Linked DNA regions of Homo sapiens: region 1 is linked to region 2. The links come from fine-mapping of genetic effects on gene expression. A gene starts in region 2. The other region holds a variant in brackets. All regions are shown on one strand. Distances are from middle to middle. Region 1 has its middle 3.3 kb from the start of ZNF211. Region 2 holds the start of ZNF550 (zinc finger protein 550).

Region 1 (5,382 bases), 70 kb before region 2:
TATATCATACAAAATGTGTTAATCGACTGGGAGTTTATGTAATTCATAAGGCTTCCGGGCAACTTCATAAGGCTTCCGGGCAACAGTTGGCTATTAGTAGTTAAGACCTAGGGGAGTCAAAAGTAATACAAGCATTTTCAATTCCGCAGGGGTCGGTATCCCTGACCCCTGCGTCGTTTAAGGGTCAGCTGTATATCAGTCTCTAGTGTAGAGGTTCACTTCAGTATTTAGACATCATTTCAGATTCCATGCAGCCCACCCCAGCAGATCTCCACTGGTAGTGGGAAGCGAAAAAACGTTATCTTATTGCTCTTCAAATGCATGCAGCCTGAAGTGTTAAAGTCACTTTTTGTAGGTTTTGTCAGGGACAAAAGACACCAGACAGGGCTACAATGGGAAGATAGTGGAGGGATAGTGGGCAGCCCTGAAGCCAACGGACAAGGGAAGTTCCCTGCTTCTGGTGCCCCCAGAAAACGCTCTCCTGCCTGCAAAGTCAGTTTTGTTCATAAAACATGAAGCTTTAATACATGAATGTTCATTTTCCTTGTATAATCAAAACATTTAATTTTTTTTTGAGACAGGGTCTCACTCTGTTGTCCAGGCTGGAGTACAGTGGAACAATCATAGCTCATTGCAGCCTCCACTTCCTGGGCTCAAGTGATCCTCCCACCTCAGCCTCTTGAGTAGCTGGCACTACAAGCACACCACCACACCCGGCTAGTTAAAAAAAAAATTATTGTAGGAATGGAGTCTCCCTATAGGGCCCAGGCTAGTCTCAAACTCCTAGGGCCATGCAATCTTCTTGCCTCAGCCTCCCAAACTGCTGAGATTACAAGCATGAGTCACCATGCCCAGACAAAAGTTTTTAATGCATAAAATATCAAATTATTATCATTATTTTAAACAGGGCCTCACTCCGTCGCCCAGAAAGTTTATATTATTTTAAGGTACATATATGCACATTGTTAAATGTACACATATACATTTTATATATATTAGATAGATCAAATTTTACGTTTCACAATAAAAATGATCCTTTAGGACAAATTAATACCAGTAAAATAAAATAAAATTAAAAGTTGTGAAATGATTTTATCAAATATATAATGTATTTGTTTACACATTTACTACAAAAATTTATAAGTGGAATGACTACTATTGTACATCTGGTTAGATCTCACAATGGGCTTGTCATTGTTTTTAGGAAAAAGGTTAGAGTTCTTGGCTGGGCCTATATTACAGAACCAACCATTACATATTGCTTCACCTCCTACCATGTATCTCCTCTATATCCTACACATGCTGAATTTCCTCAGATCCCTGAAAGCTGTGTGTGCATTCACATGCAGGGATCTTTCCAGGTTACCTTTTTCCTACCTGAGACTGCTGAATCCTATTGTGCTTTAAAAATTCATACTTTCAGGTAATCAACTGAGAAACTAGTGAAAAATGACATAACTGGCTGGGCACAGTGGCTCACACCTGTAATCCCAGCAGGTGTGATTGCTGCTCCCACCTTGGGAGGCCGAGGTGGGCGAATCACCTAAGGTCAGGAGTTCAAGACCAGCCTGGCCAACATGGTGAAACCCCGTCTCCATTAAAAATTCCAAAATTAGTCGGGCGTGGTGGTGGCACCTGTAATCCCAGTTACTCGGGAGGCCGAGGCAGGAGAATCAGAATCACTTGAACCTGGGAAGTGAAGGTTGCAGTGAGTCGAGATCGTACCACTGCACTCCAGCCTGGGTGACAGAGCAAGACTCCAAAAAAAAAAAAAAAAAAAGGACACAACTCTTTATGTCCAAATTCAATGTTTCCATCCATTGCACGTACTCAAAACTTCCCAGTACTCCTCATGAGGTAATGAAGCATAGGTTAAGTAAGTTTTGTATAATTGTGTAAATTTTTCAGGGCCGGGCTTGGTGGCTCATGCCTGTAATCCCAGCACTTTGGGAGGCTGAGGCAGGCAGATCACAAGGTCAAGAGATCAAGACCATCCTGGCCAACATGGTGAAACCCTGTCTCTACTAAAAAATACAAAAATTACCTGGGCGTGGTGGCGCATGCCTGTAGTCCCAGCTACTTGGGAGGCTGAGGCAGGAGAATCGCTTGAACCCAGGAGGTGGAGGTTGCAGTAAGCCGAGATCATGCCACGACACTCCAGCCTAGTGACAGTGTGAGACTCCGTCTCAAAAAAAAAAAAA[AG/G]AAAAAAAAGAAACATCTTAATTAAAAAACGAAATGGGCAAAGACTTTAGGTTTAGATACCTCACCAGAGAAGATACACAGATGGCAAATAAGTGTATGAAAAGATAATCCCCATCATATGTCATCAGGGAAGTAAAAATTAAAACAGCACTGAGATACCACTACACATCTATTAGAATGAACAACCTCTGTAACACTGACAACTGCAAATGGTTGAGAAAATGTACAGCAACAGGAGCTCTCATTGCTGACGGGAATGCAAAGTTGTACAGCCACTTTGAAATGGAGTTTGGTGGTTTCTTACAAAACTAAACACACTTTTACCATACAATACGGTAACCATATTTTTCAGAATTTATCCATATGAGTGGAAAATTTATGTCCACACAAAAACCTGTACATGTGTGTGTATAGCAGTTTTATCCAAAATTGGCATACTTTGGAAGCAACAAAAATGTCCCTCAGTAAGTGAATGGATTAGAAACTGTAGTATATCGCCAGGCGTGGTGGCTCACGTCTGTAATCCCAGCACTTTGGGAGGCCGAGGTGGGCGGATCATGAGGTCAGGAGATCGAGACCATCCTGGCTAACACGGTGAAACCCCCGTCTCTACTAAAAATACAAAAAAAAAAAAAAAAAAAAAAAATTAGCTGGGCATGGTGGCAGGCACCTGTAGTCCCAGCTGTTCGGGAGGCTGAGGCAGGAGAGTGGCGTGAACCCGGGAGGCGGAGGTTGCAGTGAGCCGAGATCACGCCACTGCACTCCAGCCTGGGCGACAGAGCGAGACTCCGTCTCAAAAAAAAAAAGAAACAAAGAAAGAAAAGAAACTGTAGTATATCTAGACAATGGAACATTACTCAATGCTGAAGGTAAATGAATCTTCAAGACGTGAAAAAACATGGAGGTACCTTGTATGCATACCACTAAATGAAAGAGGCCAATCTGAAAAGGCAATATACTGTATGATTCCAATTAATGACATTTGAGAAAAGGTAAAAGTATGAAAGAGTAAAAAGATCAGTGGTTGCTGGGGGTTTAGAAGGGTAGGAGGGATGAATTTGTGGAGCACAGAGGATTACTATTTTAGATGACACTCTAATAGTGGACACGTGTCATTGTACCTTTGTCCAAACACATAGAATGTACAACACTAAGAGTGAACCCTAAAGTAAAGTAGGGACTTTGGATGATAATGATGTGTCAGTGTAGGTTTATAATTGCTACAAATGTGCCACTGCGGTTGGGGTGAGGGGCGCTATGCTTATGTAGGTGCAGGGAGTATATGGAATATCTCTTTACCTTCCCCTTAATTTTACTGCAAACCTAAAAGTGCTCTTAAAAACCTAGTAATAAAAAAGATTGTGTCAGCACCATAAGGCAGGGTGGGAAAAAAAGATAAATTTCAAAAAAAAAAAAACAAAACAAAACTGTGGCTGCCTCAGAGCCATATTCTGCATCCTCTTGAAAGATAGTTGGGGATCAAAATTTTCCCCATAGGTGAAGTCACAAGTGGCATACCTTGTAAACCTTTTTATGAGGAGGAATAAGTGTCCAAAGAACAAGTATTTTACAGGATAGCAGTCCATGACCTGGCAATGTGATCAAGGGCAAGGAAGAATATGTTTGAGAAGACAGTTGACAAGGAGGTCTGAGATAATGGCATGTGAATGGATACATGGGTAATTGTGCACATTGGGGAGATTTTTGATGGTATAAAAACCATCACCAGTCACTCTTGAATTGTGCTTTGACCACATGATTTTTCACTTCCAGGCTTTTTGGACACTGTACTGGCTATTTCTTTTCCATAGCACATTTTCTCTGTGTTTACAAATCACTCTCTCTCTGCTGTGCTTTAAATATATGCTCAAATATTATCTCCACTATAAGGACAACCCTGACTATAGAAATTTCCTATAGAAATTCTACCTACTTCACGTGTTCGTTATTACTTGGTGCTGGTATTCTGATATTTTCCATAGAATCTGTCTCTTTATAACTTAGTGTATATTTTCCAATATTTTCTTTATTATTTCCAGACCACATCTCTTAATTTGAATAAAGCCTACTTGAGAATACATTTCTTTGTAGGTTGTTCACTGCTGTAAATACAAATCTAGATGAGCCTCTGAACCAGATAAGATGTTGAGTAATGCTTTCCCTCAACTCTTTCACCTTTGTACTCTCACTCTCTTTTTACTATTTCTTTCCTTCCAAGTTTGTTATTCCTCACCATTCATATGAATGAAAAAATGTCAGACTTTGTAGAAATAAGAATTTCGGCTGGGCGCGGTGGCTCACGCCTGTAATCCCAGCACTTTGGGAGGCCGAGGCGGGCGGATCACCTGAGGTCAGGAGTTCAAAACCAGCCTGGCCAACATAGCAAAACCCCATCGCTACTAAAAATACAAAAATTAGCCAGGTGCAGTGGTGGGCGCCTGTAATCCCAGCTACTTGAGAGGCTGAGGCTGAAGAATTGTTTGAACCTGGGAGGCGGAGGTTGCAGTGAGCCGAGATCGCGCCATTGCACTCCAGCCTGGGCGACAGAGCAAGACATCTCAAAAAAAAAAAAAAAAAAAAAAAAAAAAAAATTTCATAGGAGCCAAGATTCCAGCATAACCAAGGGTTCAACTTACATGTCCCATGTCTTAGAACTGTTTCCTCTATTTACCTTTATTTGTTCCCATTTCACAGATAATTTTCTCTTTTAGGTATGATGTCATTCTAAATGGATAACTCCAGTAATTAATGTTAATAACTTTCTACAATTTTCTAACTTCAAAAATTTTTTTCAGAGATCATCTCCAATCCTCTTGGAGACACTGTCACTGCAATTACAGGTGGAAGAATAAAATGACCATCACTTCCCAGCAAGGAGATGAGGTCATGGAATCCCAAACCTTATTCTCAGAGTTCAGATGCCCATGCCAAAAACTGATGCTACTTTCCTAGTAGCAAATACCAGTTTGGTAAGTAACCACTATTTCTACATAAATGTCATATTCTTCAAAAAGTAGATTATATCTTGGAGAATCCAGTAAGAAATGTTATACAAAAAATTGTAATTTTGAGGTTTAGAATACAAATACTCAGAAGGAACATACTATGAGGGACTCAGAAGCATAGACCACCTCATGCATTTGCTTTAGTGCCCCTAGAATCTCTATTCCATATTTTCTC
Region 2 (5,382 bases):
AAACTCTGTGTGAATATATTGACTACATTCAAAAGGGTATTATGTGGTTTTCTGTAAATTGAGCATTGAAATAAAAGCACAACAAAGAACTCTTAATGCATGAATCTACTCTTTAGCAAAATTTGTAAAGGGTTATAAAAGGTTTGTGAAAATCTCACCTCATTGTCAAACTGGTTAAGATTGGATAGAATTGCCTATAATTGTTTCATTAAAAATTGTGGTTGACATTAATAGTACACTAATGTAAGGGTGAAATTTGGCTTTCTCTCTCTTGAACACAATTTTCATGTAATAGTAAAGGCTAATGAAAGGTTTTTGCTTTTTCAAATTTTTGAGTCATCATTTTGGCAAAATAAATAACTTATAGTAATCTGGAATTCTAGTACATAACATCAAATATTTTAAGCCTGTTAACATATTTAACAGGCTTCCACAAATCAATTGTCTTTCTTGACACCTACGTTTTGGATGCTACAGAGGGTCCCTGGGGCATCCAGAAAAGAGGCAAGCAGGATTATTTGACATGTTTTGTTACATGGGATTGCCAAAATGATGTCTAATCTTCTTCAGGTTATATTTCAGCAAATACTATTAATATGTGTTCCAAAACTGCATGGGATTTAGAAAACTCTAATGTGAAAGTATACACTATCAACCACAATTAAGGTTGTTATGTTGTTATTGTAAACCACGGAGATAACCAAATTTTTTTTGTCAATCATGTTTTTGACTAACCACCCTGGACATTTTGTCATTTACAGACAATTGTTGTCTTGTTTTAATCCTCTTCAAAATATGGTTCATAATCAGATGTAGGAATACTTTAACAGGTATTCCTAAATGCAGGTTTCTGATAACTGAAAAACATACAGGACTCATGAAAAGCTAAAATGTTTATAAATATCAAGCAGAACAAGAGTTAACAGAATAGGCTGAACTAATAGAAAAACTGAAATAATCTTTTTGACTTTTGCTTGGAACATTGCTGATCCTTGTTTTGTTTTTCAGAGTCAAGGAAACTTCTTTTGAGCTAGCTACAGCCTTTAACAATTGAGTAAGGTTTACTCCTGAGAACAAAATTTGGAACATGTTTGTTTCTCTCTGCCTTATTGGTTCTTTAAGGACCACTGCAACATGGTCTTGGGAATTATACTTCAAGAAGCCTATAAGGTTAAAGGGTGTTTATACTCACAGTGATATAGGAATAGCACTGGGTGGTTGCAGGAGGATGGAAAAATTCGAACAACAAATAAAAACAAGAACTAGGCAAAGAAACCATAGGATAACAGAAAACCCAAAATAAGAGAAAGAATGGCCAAAATCCCAGTCAGGATGACATGTCCATGACTCTTCTGGGCAAAGCCAAATAAGAGAGAAAGGGGGCAGTAACCAGGTGGGTCCCTGAATTTCCCTCCTTTTCCAGAATACCTAATAATTATTCCACTCTCTAATTAAAGAAACACCCACAAAATAGGAATGCTGTGTGGTCACAGGAGAAGGGGGAAAACATCAAGCTGTTAAAATTAGCTACTCCAACAAGAAGACTGGGCTGATGAGACCTTAACAAACAGGATTGGGGCTAGGCTGTCCCATGACGCTAGATTTGACCCATTTCCTACCCCAGACCTAATTATACACTCATTGCCACATTAAATCACACACCCACCAGTGCCAGGCCAATCCAAGCACGCCCACATTTAGTATAAAAATGGTTGGCACCCCAATTCTAAGAAATTCCCACCTTTTCCTAGAAAAACCTCATGATTATCCCACCCCCTAATTAGAAGAGCCCATAAAATTAGAAACCCAAACTCCATTGTGCATGACCCGCTCTCCCTCGTACGTCCGCATTTCCCTCTTCTCTTGGGAAAAGTACACTCTTCTCAAAAATGTGTACTTTTTCTTCCCAATAAAAGCTTCTTGCCTTTGGCTTCATTTTGACTCATCCCTGCATTCTTTCTCACGATGGTGTCACGAAGCTGGACTCCGGAAGCGGGCGGGGACTCACGGCCCCTGGAGACCTTCCTGAGCCCTGGGCAACACCAGTCCACACAGAGGAGGCAGACGTCCCACAGACGGAACCCCACGAGCATGTCCCGGGAATGGCTCCACGCGGGAAGCGGGGGTCCAGATCCACGCCAGTCCCAGGGACAGTGCCTGGCGTCAGGGTGGAGGAGGACGCAGTAACCAGGCGTAAGATTTTACTGGTACATGGGAATGTCACTGGGTCACTCAGAGGAGGCAAGCGGGGAACCTCGTGGCAGGGCCCCCTTTATCAAACTCGTTTACCTGGGTGCCTGGGCGAGTGCTCACAGCCTGCTTGTAGGGACGTTGAGGCATCCGAATAATAGGAAGTTTTAAAAATTTACAATCCAGTGTGTACACTTGCTCCGCTAAGATCATCTGAGATATACAGAAACATGGTGTGCATAATAAAAAAGGAAAAAGAGCCAAGCCTGGCCTCTTACGGGACAAGACTACATTACCTAGAAGGCAGTGGGCCGGCGCAGGAAAAGGCGTGGCAGGCGACCGCGACACAGGGGCGGGACTTCCGGCCTCGCTGGCGTGGACGTTTGTGGTGGGGCGTGTTGGTCCGCGCTCTCAGAACTGTGCTGGGAAGGATGGTAGGGCGACTGGGGCTCACCTCCGCACCGTTGTAGGACCCGGGGTAGGGTTTTGAGCCCGTGGGAGCTGCCCCACGCGGCCTCGTCCTGCCAACGGTCGGATGGCGGAGACGAAGGACGCAGCGCAGGTGAGCAGACTGGCTCGGCTCCCCGCGGCCACCCGGCCTCAGTGTCCCGGGCCCGACGAGCGGAAGGACGGCGTTTCAGGGTCGTCCTCAGTGCAGTCCCTGCCGTTGCTTCTTAGAGGCCTAGAAGGGGGTCGCGCGGTCCCGGGTCCGGAATGCAGGCCCGCGGTGGCGTGGGGAGCGTCCCCGTTTCTGGGGTGCGCGGCGTTGTGGTATGAAATAGGGCTTTTAGGGTCCCGGAACCCCTCACAGGTGAGAGGAGCGACCGCAGTCCTCCTCGTGGCTCTTCCAACCATGTCCTTTCTCGGGCCTGCGACCTTGAACAAGTCCCGTTACTGTCCTCGTCCTTCATTTTTGCGCGCGCAAAGTAGAAATATTTACTCTTCCCCCCCCCGGGGTTGAGGAAGCTTGAACGGCTCCCTGGGTGATGTGTGTGTGTCCGTCTCAGTGCACAGCACGGTCCGGGGACGTCGCTCAGGATGTTGTTTCCGGAGCTGCTCCCTGGGCCTGTGCTAGGTTTGGAGACTCAACCCCAGCAGGAGTCTGACCCTCTGGCCTCCTTGGCCTCCTGTCTCTACAACACGAAGGGCAGCGGCTGAAAGAGGTGGGAGGAGCGTTTCTGCGGTTGCTGCTATGCCAGGGCAGAAAAGGTGGTAGGGCAGGCTGAGGAATTTGTCTTTCAGTTTAGGGCAAGGGACGCTGGGTTGCAACTAACAGTATATTTTCCTGTTTAAGACATTTAGTTACAGGTGAAAAACGAGTCCATTAAAATGTTCAGTGGCGATGGTATGCAGGATGTAGTGTCCCTTTGGAGATAACACATGAGGCCCAGGGTTACTCTCTAGCAGTCACTCTGATTACTTTCATGATAGCCCAGATTACTGTCAGCTCCTGTCGTAGTTGTTAATTTCTCATCCACCTCTCCCTCCTTTGCTTTATTTCTGACTCCCTCTGGTGTCCGCTGCTTAAAGAGGTCTCGTCTGTTGCACCGTTTAAAGCTGACCAGAGTCTCTTTGGTCTCCTTGCTCTGTTTTCTTGTCATCTGAATCTTTAAGGCCATCTGACATTGCCTTACTCATTTATTTAGTTGCCTGTTTAGGATCTTTTTCCAACCCTGGAATGTGAGTGCCTGTTGCTTCCCTCTCCCAAGACCCAGAACAGCCAGGCTTAAGTACATTTATTGTACTTAATAAATGGTTGATGATTGAATAGGCCTCTCTTATAGGGACTCTCATCACATTTCCAATAAATCCACCCCCTCCTACCAGCATGGTCTGCAAGGCTGTACTTGGTTTGCCCTTTTGACCGCATCTTCTTTCTCCTCTTCCATTGTCCCCTTTCTCACTGCATTCATCCAGGGAATCCTGAGCTTGCCAAGCTCTTTCCCATTTTCAGCCTTTGCCCTTGCACTTCCCTTTGTCTGAGACATTGTTCTCAGGTCTCTGCGGGGCTGCAGTTCCACACCCATCCTGGCAGTGCTGGCTGTAGCTAAAAGCACCCCTCACTCCCACCTGCCTGCTCTCTGGCAGCTTGGTGAGGTGTTTTAGCGGTGCTCAAATGCTGCTTTTGCTTTTTAAATGTGAGGCTGTGCCTGATTTCTAAAGCTCCCTGAGCCTTTGCTGACTGTGAAATGGAAGTGATAACGACATTTACCTCTGGGCCTGTCAGGGGATTAATAAAGTTCCCAAACACATCAGGCACTTACATGTGCTAGGCACTCCACTGATTGCCTAAGTGAACATTTTCTGTTTAGTTCTTAGAGCTGCCTGCTGAGATGGGAATAGTTATTGTGTTGATTCGGAAATCGAGCCTTAGAGAGATCATGTGACATCGTCATAGTCACATAGCTGGCAAGTGTCAGATTCAGGAGGCCTGATTTAAGTCAGGCCTTTATTTGCTTTACCACGGCTAAGGAAGCCTTAGCCTGGCAGGGACACAGTGAGGACCAGAGGACTTAGTGAAGGGTGCCTGCCCCTCTACACCTGTGGGTATTTCTTGCAAGGTGGAGATGAGAGACTGAGAAAAGAAATAAGACACAGAGACAAAGTATAGAGGAAGAAAAGTGGGCCCAGGGGACTGGCACTCAGCATATGGAGGACCCACACCAGCACCAGTCTCTGAGTTCTCTCAGTATTTATTGATCACTATCTCTACCATCTCCATGAGGGGGATGTGGCAGGACTATAGGGTAATGAGTGGGGAGAGGGTCAGCAGGAAAACATGTGAGCAAAGGACTCTGTGTCATAAATAAGTTTAAGGAAAGGTGCTGTGCCTCGATGTGCACGTAGGCCAGATTTATGTTTGACTTTACCCAAACATCTCAGTGCAGTAAAGAGCAGTATTGCCGCCAGCATGTCTTACCTCCAGCCATAAGGCGGCTTTCTCCTATCTCAGTAAATAGAATGTACGCTCGGGTTTTACACCAAGACATTCCATTCCCAGGGACAAGCAGGAGACAGATGCCTTCCTCTTATCTCAACTGCAAAGAGGCCTTCCTCTTTCATGAATCCTCGTCAGCACAGACCCTTTATGGGTGTCGGGCTGAGGGAAGGTAAGGTCTTTCCCTTCCCACGAGGCCACATCTCAGGCTGTCTCAGTGGGGGGAAACCTTGGACAATACCCAGGCTTTCTCG

Evidence for each region. PIP is the estimated chance that this variant, and not a neighbour inherited with it, causes the effect.
Region 1: its variant is fine-mapped to the expression of ZNF550 in lymphoblastoid cells after a statin (CAP, PIP 0.95).

The regions. Positions count from the first base shown.
Region 1 is chr19:57,627,157-57,632,538 of GRCh38, reverse strand. No RefSeq gene overlaps it. Among named protein-coding and RNA genes, the nearest start is that of ZNF211, 3.3 kb to the left of the region's middle. The variant AG/G (reference allele first, on the strand shown) is at 2,202.
Region 2 is chr19:57,557,026-57,562,407 of GRCh38, reverse strand. ZNF550 (zinc finger protein 550) reads left to right here and starts at 2,545. Exons shown (of 4, transcript NM_001397372.1): 1 at 2,545-2,752. The coding sequence starts at 2,726. It overlaps LOC124904781 (a long non-coding RNA gene), which reads right to left and starts at 2,466. Exons shown (of 2, transcript XR_007067357.1): 1 at 2,290-2,466. RefSeq lists enhancers at 2,184-2,293, 1,238-2,437, 2,924-2,973, 2,415-3,279, 3,424-3,503.